2 separate regions of the Homo sapiens genome follow, and region 1 is linked to region 2. Evidence: fine-mapped expression QTL. Tissue or cell type: whole blood. Region 2 holds a variant in brackets; the other region holds the start of a gene. All regions are shown on one strand. Distances are between the middles of the regions.

Evidence for each region. PIP is the estimated chance that this variant, and not a neighbour inherited with it, causes the effect.
Region 1: INPP5E starts here. The variant in region 2 is fine-mapped to the expression of INPP5E in whole blood (TOPMed, PIP above 0.99).

What each region holds. Positions count from the first base shown.
Region 1 is chr9:136,435,375-136,443,374 of GRCh38, forward strand. INPP5E (inositol polyphosphate-5-phosphatase E) reads right to left here and starts at 4,471. Exons shown (of 10, transcript NM_019892.6): 1 at 3,234-4,471. The coding sequence starts at 4,045. SEC16A (SEC16 homolog A, endoplasmic reticulum export factor) reads right to left here. Exons shown (of 32, transcript NM_014866.2): 32 at 4,731-6,449. The coding sequence ends at 6,381. RefSeq lists enhancers at 630-1,138, 2,675-3,308, 3,250-3,359, 3,309-3,943, 3,944-4,577 and silencers at 3,650-4,139, 4,200-4,379, 4,430-4,629.
Region 2 is chr9:136,489,930-136,497,929 of GRCh38, forward strand. NOTCH1 (notch receptor 1) reads right to left here. Exons shown (of 34, transcript NM_017617.5): 34 at 4,504-7,629. The coding sequence ends at 6,142. Among named protein-coding and RNA genes, the nearest start is that of C9orf163, 10 kb to the left of the region's middle. The variant C/T (reference allele first, on the strand shown) is at 3,465.

The DNA.
Region 1 (8,000 bases), 55 kb before region 2:
TCTCACTCCGTGCCCAGGCTGGAGTGCAGTGGCACTAACACAGCTCCCTGCAGCCTCTACCTCCCGGGCTCAAGTGATCCTCCTGCCTCAGCCTCCCGAGTAGCTGGGACTCCAGGTGCAGTGCCACCACGCCCGGCTAGTTATTTATTTATTTTTTATTTTTGTAGAAACAGGGTCTCGCCACGTTGTCCAGGCTGATGCTTTCAGATTTTAATACGGCGGTGCACACAGATGGTTAAACACCGTGTGGCACAGCAACGTCCCTGCCCCTCCCCACACTCAGCACCTTCTGCCACGAGGGCTGGTAACCCGTCAAGAGGCAACCGCACACGCCTGCCGCTCCGTGGGACATCCAGTGTCTGTCGCCGTGGGCTCTGCTACGGTGGTGCAAGAGCCACCAGGGGATGTGGACACAAGGGGTGCAGCCGTGTGCCCGAGACGCTTGATTTACAGACACTGAAATCTGAATTTTACAATTTTCTTGTACTATGAAACATCATTAGAATGGTTTTGACTTTTTCCAACCATTTGGAAATGTAAAACCCGTTCTCAGCTCGCCGACTATACAGAAACGCCGTGGGCTAGGCTTGCCAGCCGTCCTCCCCGCTCCCTCTCTAAGTAACACTTGTGCGGCTCCTTCTGGATACGCCGTCTTCTGACATGGTTCCCTTCCGCAAGGGGACACGAGAGCATAGTGCCGGATTCCTGTGACCTCCCGCGAGAACTTCTTCAACCCTGGCTGCGGCTCACCAAGCTTCACTGGACACGTTAAATCATGTCAGCAGGGAGGAACCTCGCTACCTCACCCCTAAAACTGTCGACAATCCCGGTCGGGACAGCTGTGTTCACACAGTGGTCATTCGGGACAGAGAGCGTTCCTGTGGGCACCCCTGTCAAGTGATCCCGGGCCCAGCAGGGGCTCCTCGGTCACCAGGCTGGAGGCCCACGGCCCCTTTGCCGGCAGCGCCCATCATGTCCACACCAGCAGCCACGTGGTCAGTCTGCCCAGCTCTGTCCAGAGCATGGTTAGTAACAGCAGGCCAGGGGCGGCCCTCACAGCCATTCCTGTGTCTAGACACGGGCAGGGGCAGAGCTGCCTCGGACCCCCATCCAGGGCCAGGACACTGCACAGCTTCTGCATGAGGACGCTCAGGCTGGCTGCCACAGCCTGGGCCAGCTCTCCGAGCAAAAGGAACGGGTGGGGAAAGGCCCCCTAACCCGCCCTGGCAGCCCCAAGGCACTGGCAAAAGCCAGCAGCCATTCTCAAACAGGGCGGACCCAGCCCGTGCACACGCGGCCCGCAAACTCAGAATGGGTTTTACTGTGTGGAACGGCAGAGAAAGAAAAAAGAGCGAGGTTCCAATGTATGTCCCTAATAGACTCACTGGCACACAGACGCCCTTTGGTCCCCACTGTCTGTGTCTCCCCCTTGACAGAAAGAGTGCGCCGACTCCTATTCTAGAACAGACCGGAGGTCTGGAAATGGGAAGCTGTTAGGCAGCAGAACTGGGTTAAAGGATCCACGTCAACCCTCGTTTCCTGGTTGTTTGAAAACAATGACTTGAGGGTCCAAATTTGAGACACGACTGTCCTTTTCTCTAACAGGTGTATCTACGTCAACCGGATCTAATTTTAAAATGTGATGCTTTAGATGCACTAAGAAATCTCACTCTTTACGAGAAGCCCTGCAGTGAATTATTTTAACAAAAGCAGCAGTCTTGCCCTGGATGTGATCGCACCTGCTCCATCCATGACAGGAGGAGAGTATGGTGGGGGCGCCAGGCACGGGCCCTCACTCCAGGCCTGAGCCCACCTGCCTGCTGGTGCACCACAGACGCGGGGAAGTGAGGCTACCTTCGGGGACTGTGGTGAGCTGAACAGTGATCCCCAAAGCCATGTCCACTCCCAGAGCCCCAGAACCTTGGAATGGGACCTTATTCGGAAACGGGGTCTTTGCAAACGTGTTTAATTAAGGATCTCGAGATAAGACCACCCTGGATTTAGGGTAGGCAGTAAATTCAATGACTGGTGTCCTTATAAAAAGAGAGGGGAACACAGAGAGACAGGGAAGAGGCCACATAAAGACAGAGGCAGAGACTGGAGCATGCGGCCACAAGCCAAGGAACAAGTGGGGCCCCAGGAGCGGGAGGCAGCGGGAGGACCCTCCCCTGAGCCTCTGGAGAGAGGCTGCGTGGCCACACCTTGATTTTAGACTTCTGGCCTCTAGAACTGGGAGAGAGTCCAGCTCTGCTGTTGCAAGCCTCCCAGTCTGTGGTCATGAGTTACAACGGCCCCAGGACACCAACACAGAAACCACCTCACACCTCTCCCTTCTCACACCTGTCCTGCCTCCCGCCGCGGCTGACAGACAAGACTTGGGCACCATGGCAGTGGGGTGGGGGGAGGAAAAGAAGGGTGCAGGTGACTCTGCCAAGTCATAGTGGGAGCATCTCAGGACAGGCCCCCAGACTGAGACCCCAAGACAAGACCAGGCTTGGGAGAGGTCATGGGTTCAGCTGCAGTTCCTTCCAGCAACAGCTGGAGCCCACCAAAATGTTCCTCATGAGCAAGTGGCTAAACGAAAGTAGCCTCAACACATCTGGGGCCTCTTGCCGCAGAAAAAAACAAAGGGGGCAGGCCGGGCGCAGTGGCCCACGCCGGGAATCCCAGCACTTTGGGAGGCCGAGGCCAGGAGTTCGAGACCAGCCTCGCCAACACGGCGAAACCCCGCCCCTACTAAAAATACAAAATTTAGCTGGGTGTGGTGGCGGGCGCCTGTAATCCCAGATTCTCAGGAGGCTGCGGCAGGAGGATCCCTTGAACCCAGGAGGCAGAGGTTGCAGTGAGCCGGGATCGCGCCGCTGCACTCCAGCCTGGGCGACAGAGAGAGTAACAAACAAAAACAACCAAAGGGGCGGATCGTATACATTGACGACATTTCCCAAGACTAAACAAGAAAAAGCGCCAGATACGTAATTGTATGCAGGATGCCATCCTGTCTACCTTAACACAACGTCACGCCCACGAATGGTTCTGAAACGCACAGGAAAAGTTCTGGGAAGGGCGCTGCTGTGGGGTGGGGCTGGGAGATGGGGTGGCTGCGGGAGACCCGCTTCGTTCTTTCCGGTTAGGCATCTTAAACGCTGCTGATGGGAACGGTCTCACGAGGTTCCAGCAGCCTGAACACTACAACGAAGGCGGCGCGGGCGCTGCACCCGCCAGGCCCTCCCTACCTGCTGCGGACGTCCTTGCTGCGGATGGGCGCCAGGAGGCTGAAGGAGGATTTGGCCGAGCGAAGGGAACAGTCGTCGCAGGCCAGGGGGCTCCGCGGCCGGCCGGGGCCCAGGCTGCTGTGGGCCCGCACCAGGAGCGGCTGCGCGCGGAGCTTGTAGTCTGCAAGATCCGAGTCGACCTTGTTTGCTGTCCTCAGGGAGTCGGAGGCGATGTCCAGGCTCAGGGCAGGCGGTGGGCGCGGGGGCAGCAGGCTGGGCAGCCTGGGCGAGCTCCCCGCCACGGCGGCGTCTCTGTGCGGGAGGTTCGGGGAGCTGCTGGCCACCCCAGAGAGAGGGTTACCCCCCGAGGACGGGCTCCCTCTCTCACTGCTCAGGACCCCGCGGGACTTGGGGATTTCCTGCAAGGAGGTGCTCAGGCAGGGCGGGGAGCAGCTGTGGGCGGGGGCCCCGGGGCCCTCGCTCTGCACTGAGCCCCTGGAGGGACTGGTCCCATTCCGGGCTTCCAGGTCCTCCTGGCTGCCTCGAAAACGCCTCCTCCTCCAGCCCTTGTCGTCCAGGGACAGGGCTCGCTCCAGTCGAGGCCTGGCGGGGGGCCGCGGGGCGATGGGTGCTGCTCGGGCTGGCGGGTCCTCGCCGCTGGGCGTGGCCGGAGTGCTGCAGGCAAGCGCGGGGCTCTCGGAGCCCGGAGCATCGGGTGGGGACCCCGCGCGCTGGGCCGGCGGAGCGCCGGGAAGCTGTCCTTGGAGCGTCCTCCCTTCCGGCGGCTGCGGGGCCGGCTCGGAGGGCCGCAGATTCTCCGCCTTGGACGGCATGGACGGTCTCTCCCGGGGCAGGCCTCGGCGCGAGGCCGCAGGCAGCGCGAGGGGTCACGGGTGCCGGGTCCGGGGTCGCCGGCGCAGCGAGGAGCAGAAACGCCGCTGCGGCTCCCGCTTGGGCCGGGGATGGTCGCGGAGGGGCGGGGGCGGCTGCCGCATGGCCCGGGCCCCGAGTCCCGCCAGCCCCTCGGGGCTCCCAGACGCCGTTCCCAGGGCGGTCCGCAGGCAAGGCCTGGGGGAACAGGCGGCTGGGCGCCTGTCGCGGGGGAGGTTCGACCCCGACGGGGACGCCGCTCGGGGAGAGGGGTGGGAAGCGGGCACCCCTGGCTGGGCTCGCAGACTCCGAAGTCGACCCGGTACTCGCGGAGGCCCGGCCGCCCAGAAGCGGAGTCAGCCCGGCCGGGACCCAGCAACCGCCGCCGCGGGGCCGCGCCCGGTCCCCGCCCCGCGCCCCGGCCCCGCCCACAGCGGCCCCTGGCGGCCGGAGGACTGCGCCGCACCGGACCCGGACGGGTCTCCCACGCCCCTCCCAACCCGGCAGCCCCGCAGTCCGGCAGGTCCCAGCGAGGCAGGTGCAGGTCCCCGGAGAGGACCTGGGTGCGGTCCAGGACAGCGCCGAGGCCTGCGGACACCTGCACTCACTCGCTTCCAGCAAACCAAAGGGAACCACAGGTGAAGGTGCTTGAAGGAGCGCAAAATATTTTATTCAACAATTTGCAATGTAACAATTCTCATTTAGGAAAAATAGCCGCTCCCGCCTGGAGGAAGCTTCTTGAATCAAAAGTCGTGGCAGTCGACCCCAGAACAGCGGGCAGAGCCGACCGGAAGAGGTCCCAGGATTCACACGAGCTGACCGAGGGACAGAGAGGGCTGCCCCGTCACAGGGACTGGCCTTTCTCCAAGTGACAAGGACAAATGGATCCAGCGGGACACGCCTGTGGAACATTTTGGAAAACATCCTGGGTGGTCTGGGCTAAATGATCAAGTGAAACAGAAAGCCAGGAAGGATCTGTGCTAATTCCACATTCTACAATTTCTACACTTAAATTTAAAACACCAAACAGTTTGTATTCCTCCAGCAGAACCTACAGAAATTATCTACTGATTTTTATTAGTATTTAAATCTTTTCTTCAGTCTCTTTAGACTTGACAAGAATACGAAGAGTTTCAGAACAGTCAGAGAAGCCTTAAAGCTTTGCATCAGTGAGAGGAGGCCCGTCTCTGAGTTGAACAGGGTTGAGTCCACCAGGAGCTACTCAAAGTCTCAGTGTGGCAAAACTCGGGGCAGAAATACTAAGTTCCAGAGCTGCTGTCAAGAAACTGTGTTAAGATACTCTCCCCAAGTGCTACCAACCTCTGAACCAACGTCCCCCAGGGGAGAAAGTGGGTCATGTGGATTGTACCACGAAAAGTGCTCACGGAAAGTGCAGCCTTTTAGAGAAGTGCATCCAGCTTCCTTAACAGTGAGTCTAACCGTGCTCCTACACACGAAATGAAGCCCAAATCAAACATCACACGGTCAGTTTTCAACCTGGATGACCACCCTGAGCCATCATGTCAGACAGCCGGCTCTCTGGGGCTCCTTCCCAGTGACTGGGCCACACGGTGGGCAGTCCCCAGCGCTTTGGGTACACAAAATCACCCATGGTCCTCATCAGGCCACAGAAAGTAAAGTGAGGCTGGAAGCGTCTTTGCAACAGGAAAGAAATTCACTGCAGTAACTAAGGCCTCTCTCAAAAACCGTGAACTAATGCCGAAGGAACCCCACGGCTCCTCGGAGGCGCTGATTGAGAACACAGCGCCCTCCACTCATTCAGCCAGGTTCAAACACGGCGAGGGCCCAGATGGTGCAGAGCAGGGGTTGGGGTCTGCCTCAGTCACCCTCTCTTTGCTCCCAGCACCTTAAAGGAAGCGCGGGACTCACTGGGCAGTGACTCACAGCTGGGCTTGGAGAGGCCCTGGTTACTACCGACCATGTGGCTCTCCTGTGGCAGAGACAGCTCCGGCTTCAATGAATGAACATTCTTAAATGACCAGGAATACTATATCCTTAAATCATCCTAAATGACTAAGAAAGTCACATCATTCTTTTCGGCAAACAATTCTGAGTCAAAGATTCAGTCTTTCCATCCAGAATCTGAAAGGATGGTGGAATTAATTTTCAAAATAATTCATTACGATGGGCGGTGAGGAGGGAGGCACAGTGTGCGACCAGCTCTGAGTCACTGCTGTGTCTCCCTGGGGGCGGGACGGAGATCGCGGAGGTCGGTCGGGTTCTTCGGGGAGAACAGCAGCGTCAGGGCTCCAAGTGCAAGTTCACAGCAGGGCAAGCCTAGTTCAGCACCAGGTGCTTCCTCTGGCCAATCCTCCCTAGCCTTGAGCTCCCGGAGGTGGCGCAGGCCTGGAATGAAATCAACAGCATGACCTCTGCATGCCTGCCCCCAGGGTGAGCAGTGCTCGGCTGCAGCGTGGCAGGGGCTGGTCCACATAATGAACCACACGGGCCATTGGCGCTGACAAGCTGAAGGCTTCGTTTTTGTTTCCAAAAGCCTCTGGAAACCGACAAGTCAGTGCCAAGTCCTGGGCTCCCTTGAAAGCACTGTATCCTTAACCATCAATGTTTACTGTGAGGGTGGCCAGGAGGTGCCGTGGTTTCATCAGGGCCATGAGACCTGGAGCTGCTCTGCAGAGCCAGCCTGGCTGTCCAGAGTCCAGGGACAAGTGGTGGCCAGGCCTGGCCTACTGCATGGGACGCGGGGACCTCAGTTGCAGACAGCTGGCCAATGCAGGCATCCACTCTTGCTCCCTCGCAAAGCCTCATGGAGGGGAAAGCCAAGGAATTTTTGTAAAGGCACTAACCACATGGTAAAGGGAGCAGGACAATACCAAAATCGACTAGTCTGGATGCTGAAAAGCAGGTGACAGCCAGGGGCCAGCTTGGGGGCAGTGGTCCTGGGAGCCTCGGCCTCGTTTGTAGAGGACCAGGGCAGGAGTGCTGGGCCCCAGCCCAGGAAGCCTGCAGTCAAGAGTGTGTGAGGCTGTGAGGGCAGGCTGGGGTGACAATGGGGCTGAATCCCAAGAGGCCCCAGACCTTGGACCCCGCTCAGCTCCCCTACACTGGCAGCCAGTCTATACTCCACAGGCAAGGGAGAGGGGAGGAGAGACGAGGCTGAGGGAGGGAAACCACAGGAAACATTCTAGAACACTCCCCAGCTGAAGGGCATGCAGTCAGGCCCAAGGGGGCTGAGGGTGAAGCCCTCCAGGTCCCAGGGAAACGGACCCTGAAAGGGGCTGCAGGCAGAACGGCCCTGGGGTCTCAGCAACCACAGGCAGCAGGAAACCTAAGGCCACTTGCAGTTCTGAAGAAAGTGACTTTGGCCCAAGAATTCTACCAGCCAGCCAGATAGGCCGGAGGAGAAAGGCAGCTCCAGACGTGAAAGGCATCTCCCAAGTCACCCTGGGACCTTTCTGTCAAGAAGCTATTAGGAAAAAGAAATAAAAAACATACAAAAAAAGCAAGAGCTACCAGAGGATGTGTGTCACCAAGACAAACAGAGTAACTAAGAAAGGCAGCAACATAGGATTCCAAAGCTGGGGGACCCACTCCGGGGAGACCCGGGTGCCCGGGCCAAGGGAGGAGAGATCACGCTCGGCTCAGAGACCACGGGCTCCAGGAGAACAGAATAGCAGACGTGGCAGAGCTGGGGGCTGAATGAGGGATACACAAGTAGAAAGCCAAGCACATTTTACAAACTACAACCTAGGAAAAGGCAAAGCGAATACAGGAGCACGGAGGGCCTCGTGTCGACAGAGCTCCACACGGGAGCACGGCGGGCCTGGTGTCCACGCAGAGCTGAGCACGGTGGGCCTGGTGTCCACACAAAGGGAGAAATGGCAGCCGGGGAGGGCCCAGCCTGGCTCCTCACAGTGCCCTGTGGACTGCCACCCAGTA
Region 2 (8,000 bases):
GACAGCAGCCGCCAGGTGGAAAGCAAAGACACAAAGCAGCCAGATCGGGAGTCACGTCGGGGCAGGCGACTGAGGCGCCACCCAGCCACCTTCAAGATGCAGATTGAAGAACAGCCTTTCCCAAAGCTCGCTCACTCACTGACCCTGCGTCTTCGTCTGCAAAGCCTGAGTAACGTGGGAGGCCCTGCAACGCCCCCTCTGAGAGACCTCCACTAACGCCAGCACTTTTTTTTTTTTTTTTTTTTTTTTTTTTTTTTTTTGTGAGAGTGTCTTGCTCTGTCGCCCAGGCTGGAGTGCAGAGGCATGATCTCTGCTCACTGCAAGCTCCGCCTCCCAGGTTCACGCCATTCTCCTGCCTCAGCCTCCCAAGTAGCTAGGACTACAGGCGCCTGCCACCACGCCCGGCTAATTTTTTGTATTTTTTAGTAGAGACGGGGTTTCACCGTGTTAGCCAGGATGGTCTCAATCTCCTGACCTTGTGATCCACCCGCCTCAGCCTCCCAAAGTGCTGGGATTACAGGCGTGAGCCACCACGCCTGGCCAACGCCAGCACTTTCAACGCACCGGGACCAAGCTGGACCCGGTTTTGTTTTGAAACACTTTTACTTTTGCAGACGAATACGTCGGTGTCCCACCAGGAACCGCTGCTGGTGGATGCTCACCACGGGAAACAGCCGCGTGACGCTCCCCCTTGTCTGCCTCTGCCCAGTGCTGCCCCCTCCAGCAGAGCTCCTCATGTGTGGTTCGTGGATTTGGGTCCACGATGAGATAAGGAGCCACACAGAACGAAATCAGTCCACCGCTGAGCACGCAGTTGAGCCCCACGGACACCCTTTGCAAGTGAGACTTTTGGGATGAAGGCAGCACAGGCCTGTCGATCCCTGGAGCAGCCCGGGGGCTACGGCACCGTGCTTCCCTCTTGGATGGAGGCAGCCCTGCCTGCCGGGGGCCTGATTTGTGGGCCCTGATGAGTTGGTGCCTCCGGGCTCTTGGGACCCTCCTTTGCTCTATCCAGAGGGACGCAGCGCCACACTCGGGGTTCACGCCGGCAGCGGCGTGGAGTGAGTCACCAGGCTGAAGATACACTTGGTGTTTTCCTGCGCTGGGTGGAACTGTCTGGAGCCCCCTTGGCATCCTGCTGAAGAGTCCGAATCTGGACGTGAGCCTCCTGGAGATACTGAACACCTTTTAAAGTGTGGCCAGGCCCAATCTAGGGTGCTGTGAGTGTACTGTACATCCTGGGTTTCAAAGACACAGTACCAAAAACAAACAAACAAAAAGAATATAAAACATCTCATTCACGGCCGGGCGTGGTGGCTTACGCCTATAATCCCAGCACTTTGGGAGGCCGAGGTGGGCCGATCACGAGGTCAAGAGATCAAGACCAGCCTGGCCAACATGGTGAAACCCCCTCTCTACTAAAAATACAAAAATTAGCTGGGCGTGGTGGCAGGTGCCTGTAATCCCAGCTACTCGGGAGGCTGAGGCAGGAGAATCGCTTGAACCCGGGAGGCGGAAGTTGCAGTGAGCTGAGATCGCACCACTGCACTCCAGCCTGGGTGACAGAGGGAGACTCTGTCTCAAAAAACAAAAAACAACAAAAAAAAACTCATTCACTTTTTATGTTGTGTTAAAATAATATTTTTGATATATTGGATTAACTAAGCTGTAGTATTAATATACACTTTGCCTGTTTCTTTTTACCTTTTTAATGTGGCTACTGAAATATTTAAAGTTGCATATGTGGCCAGGCGCAGTGGCCCACACCTGTAATCCCAGCACTCTGGGAGGCCAAGGTGAGGAGAGGACTGCATGAGCTCAGGAGTTCGAGACCAACCTGGGCAACAAAGTGAGACCCCATCTCTGCAAAAAATAACAAAAAAATTGGGTGGGTGAGGTGGTGTGCACCTGTAATCCCAGCTGCTAGAGAGACCAAGGTGGGAGGATCACCTGGGCCCAGGAGGTTGAGGCTGCAATAAGCTATCATGGCACCACTGCACTCCAGCCTGGGTGACAGAGCAAGACCCTGTCTCAAAAACTTTTTTTAATTAAAAAAAAAAAATAACATATTGAGGTGAGACTCACAGAACCTAAAATTAACCACTTTAAAGTGTACGAGTTAGGCCAGGTGCAGTGGCTCACGCCTGTAACCTCAGCACTTTAAGAGGCCGAGGCGGGTGGATCACTTGAGATCAGGAGTTTGAAACCAGCCTGGCCAACATGGTGAAACCCAATCTCTACTAAAAATACAAAAAAATTAGCCGGGTGTGGTGGTAGGGGCCTGTAATCCCAGTTACTTTGGAGGCTGAGGCAGGAGAATCACTTGAACACAGAGGCGGAGGTTGCAGTGAGCCAAGATCACGCCACCACATTCCAGCCTGGGTGACAGAGCGAGACTCCGTCTCAAAAAAAAAAAAAAAAAGTGTCCGCGTTATTGGCATTTAGTGCACTCGAAGGGCTGTGCACGCACCACCTCTCCCTGGGCCCAGAACATTTGCGTCACTCCAAAGTAAAACCCCGGGCCGTCTTCATCCACGTCCCTACAAAGGACATGAACTCATCATTTTTTATGGCTGCATAGTATTCCATGGTATATATGTGCCACATTTTCTTAATCTAGTCTATCATTGTTGGACATTTGGGTTGGTTCCAAGTCTTTGCTATTGTGAACAGTGCCACAATAAACTAAAACTTAAAGTATAAAAACAAAACAAAACAAAAAAAAACCCCGGGCCGTTTAGCAGCCACTCCCCTTTCCTCCTCCCCCCGGCTCTGGGAACCATCAATCTACTTTCTGTCTCCATGGGTTCGGTGACCACAGGCACCCCATAGAAATGGAGTCACTGCACCTGCGGCCCTTTGCGGCCGGCACCCTTCACTGAGCACCGTGCTTCCAAGGCTTGTCCGCATGGTGGGTGTCAGCGCCTCCTTTTCTACGGTGGAATCATATTCCCTCGTGCGCATTCGTCAGGGTTCTTCCGGCAAGCGGAGCCCATAAGACGTGCCACTGGAGAGGTTATTGCAGGGAATTGGCCACACGACCTCGAGGCCTGCAGTTCCCAGGGTCTGCAGTTGCAGGCAGGAGGCCTGATGGCGTTGCGAGTCCGAAGGCCGGTGGGCTCCAGGCCCAGGAAGAGCCCACGTTTTCAGTCCAAGTCTGAAGGCAGGAAAAGACCAATGTCCAGTGCAAGCGGTTGGGTGGGAGGACCCCTGGCACTCGGCCTATTGTTCTCCCCAGGCCTCAGCGGACCGCACGGGGCCCACCCACACTGGGGAGGGCGGACTGCCTTACCCGGGCTGTGGATGCAAATGCGAACCTCATCCAGAACACCTCAGAGACACACTCCGTTTGGCGAAATGGCCCGGCCAAGCTGACACTAAGGTTCACCGTCACAGCAGACGGTTTTGCTGACCCGTCGTTGGCAGTGGACGCTCAGGCTGTCTGTGGCTGTACTGAGTGATGC[C/T]GGGACAGCAAGTGGCCACGTGCGTTTGTTTGAGTCCCTGTTTTCACTTCTTTCGGACAGACCCCCAGGAGTGGAATTTCAGGGTGCTGGGAGTTTTATGGGCAGGACTCCGGCTGGGTCACCCCCTTTGAAGACAAGAGTCAGGCCACTCACTGCAGTTCCACGGTGGCCCCTCCTGGTCCTGGTGCCCAGCGCTGGCTGGCAGACGCAGCCCCCAGCCATAGTAGAGGCCTCGGGCTCACATCCCTCCTTGGAGAGACTGGGCCCAGGGCAGGCAGTGCTTTGCAATCCAAAGAGGGATCTCAGACTCCCCACCGCTCTGGTTTGAAGCCACTGGCCTGCCCTGAAGGTCTGGGGCTGGGCAGAGGCCCAGGCAGTGGGGAGAGAAGGGGCCCACCCTTGTGTGAGGCTGGCAGCTCTATTCAGGGGCAGGGCCCCAGGACCAGGCCGCCTCTGCCTCGCTCAGCCAGTTCCTTAGGATCACACAACTTTCCAGACTCTGCCACGACCCATGCTGCCCTGCTCATAGGCTTCGACAGCTCCCTTTGCCCTCCTATAGGGGCCAGAGTCCTCCCTGTGGTCTCCAGCCCGTAGAGGGGTCATGCCACTGCCTCAAGGCCCTCCCTATGCAGCCCCCTGCCTGCTGCAGAGCTCCCTGAGGGGCTGTCCCCAGGATGGCTGGGTGGGACCTTCATCCCTCCGAGGCTGAGAGGAGAAGAGCCCCGAGCTGCCAGGAGGGCCAGACTCACGCATGGTGTCCTGGGAGCCGTGTCACCCCAGGCACGAGCCCCACCTCCCATAGGGCTGCAACCCCCTTGCTGCTGTGTGTCCATCTCCCTACAAAGGGCCTGGACCAGGCAGGCTGCAGACACCATGGAGTCCCTGGAGGCAGCGTGGTCCCCACACCCCCGTGGGCCAGGACTAGGCAGCCTCACCGTCACTCTCCCAGCAGAAGGGGCCCTCGACTCCTGGCTCCCTCAGAGCATAGCAGCCCTGCCTCCCTCCCAGAAAGGGAGCCAAAGGCCAGAGCAGAGGGGAGTGGAAGCCAGATCACCATCAGTATCATTTTTATTGCAAATCAGTTAACAAAAAAGATGAAAAAAATACATCATCTACAGTTCCTCATGTAGATCACTTTTAAAGTCTTTTTCTGTAAACTACACTCTATTTTATAAAACACAGTAAAAATCAACATCTTGGGACGCATCTGGTCATGCCCCCTGGGGATGGCACCACGCGGCCCCCGTAGAGCCGGGGGAGGCTGCCCTGAGGAGTGCAGGCGGCACGGCAGCGGAGCGTCCCCAGTGCATGGGCGGCTAAGGCTCCCCGAGCTGAGCCAAGTCTGACGTCCCTCACTGGCATGACACACAACAGACTCATTCATTAAGATTTTTTAAACAAAATCCACCTTTAAAAACATATTTACAGACATTTTTTCTGCCATAGGCTATACTTGGTATTGCAAAAATCTGCTCCTCCCAAACTAGGAGGGGTGGCCCAAGGGCAGCCCCCGCCTCCCTCCAGCCCCTGCCCGACCGCATGCCCCCTGCCAGGGCTGCGGGGACAGGACCAAAGGACGCAGCCCACGGCGTTGCACAGCTCAATGTGCCCGGCTCTGGCAAGTCTCCTACAAAACACGGGAGCCCACGGGGGGTCGGGTCCCGCGAGCTGGGGCCCAGGCTGTGTTGCTGGAGCATCTTCTTCGGAACCTGGGGGACACTGTGCAGGCTGAGGTGCTGGGGCCGCCACCGGGGTCAGCCCAGGCAGTGTCTTTCCCCAGAAAAGGGTAGGATGCCTCCGTGTGTGACCCAGGCAAGTGCCACAGTCCACACATCTCATGTTTGACATGCATGATGCCTACATTTCAAGAACGGGCAGGGGGCCGGGGTGGTTCTGGAGGGACCAAGAACTTGTATAACCAACGAACAACTACATAATACTGAACCTGAAACAAAGATTCATGATTGGTACCATGGGTGCACTCTTGGCATACACACTCCGAGAACACATTTTCACAAGCATGCTTGCAAGAAACCATCTAAAACACATGGCAACATCTAACCCATATGCTTTCACTTGTTTCCTATTTCAGATGCAAATTAATCCGCGTGCGGAAGGTGAGCCAGCTTTGCCTCCGTTTGCCTCTGGATGCAGCTTCTCCTAACAGGCAGGTGATGCTGGTGGAGCGGCCGGGCTGGCTTGGGGTTGGGTGGGCGTCGGGGAAAGGGCGCGGCCTGGACGCCCCAGGAGCTTTTTGGACTATGCTCGTTCAACTTCCCTTCTCCAACATCATTTCTTTTTGGATTTTGAAAAAAGGAATCAATAAATAAATGGCATTTATAAATCATGAATCTTTGTTTATATTTTATAAACACAGAAGAATCTTTTCATCCTACGTAGGAAAACCCTGGCTCTCAGAACTTGCTTGTTTTCTCAGAATAGATAAAAGTTTCTACCTGGGGCCAGATAAAACAGTACATATAAATAAAAAGGCAGTGTTTCTGTGTAAAATAAAAGTACATAAATAAATACTAAAAAAAATTAAAATCCTCGTTCTTATTTTGTATAAAAACATGTGTTTTAAAAAGGCTCCTCTGGTCGGCCCTGGCATCCACAGAGCGCACACAGACGCCCGAAGGCTTGGGAAAGGAAGCCGGGGTCTCGTGGGGCGCGCCGTTTACTTGAAGGCCTCCGGAATGCGGGCGATCTGGGACTGCATGCTGGTGGGAGGGCTGGAGACGCCCTCGGACCAGTCGGAGACGTTGGAATGCGGGGACGAGCTGGACCACTGGTCAGGGGACTCAGGGGACGGGGTGAGGAAGGGGTGCTCAGGCACCTGTAGCTGGTGGCTGGGGGTGTTGTCCACAGGCGAGGAGTAGCTGTGCTGCGAGGGGGGCGTCAGGAACTGGGCTGCGGTCACGGGTGGGACCAGCGAGGATGGCAGCGACGTGGGCAGGGCGGGGCTCTCCTGGGGCAGAATAGTGTGCACCGCCAGGCTGCTGGGGCCCAGTGGCTGCACGTCTGCCTGGCTCGGCTCTCCACTCAGGAAGCTCCGGCCCAGGTGGCCGCTGGCTGCTGAGCTCACGCCAAGGTGCGGCTGTGGTGGTGGTGGTGGCGGCTGCAGGCTTTGCTGCTGCTGGATGTTTGCTGGCTGCAGGTTCTGCTGCTGCATCTGTAAGTTTTGTGGCTGCACCTGCTGGGTCTGCACCAGGTGAGGCTGGGTGGCCAGCCGGGTGCTGGGCAGGCCCTGGTAGCTCATCATCTGGGACAGGGCGCTGGCAGCAAGGCTACTGTGCAGCGGGCCTACCATGCCATGCTGCAGGGAGGGGGCCTGTGTGCTCAGGGGGCCTGGTGCCACACTCCCCCGCAGAGGGTTGTATTGGTTCGGCACCATGCCGCTCTGCAGCCGGGACAGCCACTCGCATTGACCATTCAAACTGGTGGACCCGCCCACAGTGAAATTCAGGGCCCCTCCGCTGCTGGAGCCCAGGACGGTGCTGGTGCCAGAGGCCACAGGCAGGTGGGAGAGACGAGGTGGGCCAGTCTCAAAGGCCAGCCGGCCGCCCCCACCCAGCGCCGCCATCTCGGGCTTGGCCGCCACGTTCAGGTGCCCGATGCCCAGGTGGGTGTCGGGCATCCCAGGCAGGTGGTTGAGGGGCACGGACGGAGACTGCTGGAACGGGGAGGGCAGCAGTGGCGGCGAGGCCACGTCTGACAGGTAGCCATGGGGTGACTCCAGGGAGTCCACGGGCGAGAGCATGCCGGAGCTGTCCAGCAGGCAGCCCTTGCCGTCCTGGGACTTCTTCCTCCGTGCCTTGAGGTCCTTGGCCTCCTTGCTTCCACAGGCCAGGCCTTTGCTGCTGGGCTTGCGGACCTTCTTGCCCTGCACGCCGGGCTTGAGGCTGCCCAGGTAGCCGTTGGGCGAGCAGAGCGGGGGCGACAGGGTGGGCGTGCCCCCCAGCGGGGCTCCGTGCAGCTGCGGGCTGCGCACCAGGTTGTACTCGTCCAGCAGCCTCACGATGTCGTGATGCATGCGCTCCTGTGCGATGTCGCGCGGCAGGCGGTCCATATGATCCGTGATGTCCCGGTTGGCAAAGTGGTCCAGCAGCACCTTGGCGGTCTCGTAGCTGCCCTCCCGGGCGGCCAGAAACAGGGGTGTCTCCTCCTGGGGGATGAGGGCGGGGGCCGGTGAGGGGGGCCAGGCCAGGCGTGGGGACCCTCCCCAAGGTTCCATCACCAGAGGAAGCAGCAGTACAACCTCCTCCGCGGGGTGGGGGCAGGCAGGCTGCTCCTCAGGACCCCACCCCAGCGTCCTGCAACCACCTAGCCTGACTCTTGTTAAATGTTAAGGCTTTGATACATCTTCTGAAACCCACCCAGAGAGGGGATCTGTGCAGTCCTCTACCCTAGATCAGCGGGGCTCCACCTCTATGGGGGGGTCACAGACCCCACTGAAAATCTAACCAACTGCAGGCCCTCTTCCCTGCCCCCAATAAGGCACAAAAGGAAATTCCTGGAGCGGTTCAGAGGCACCGG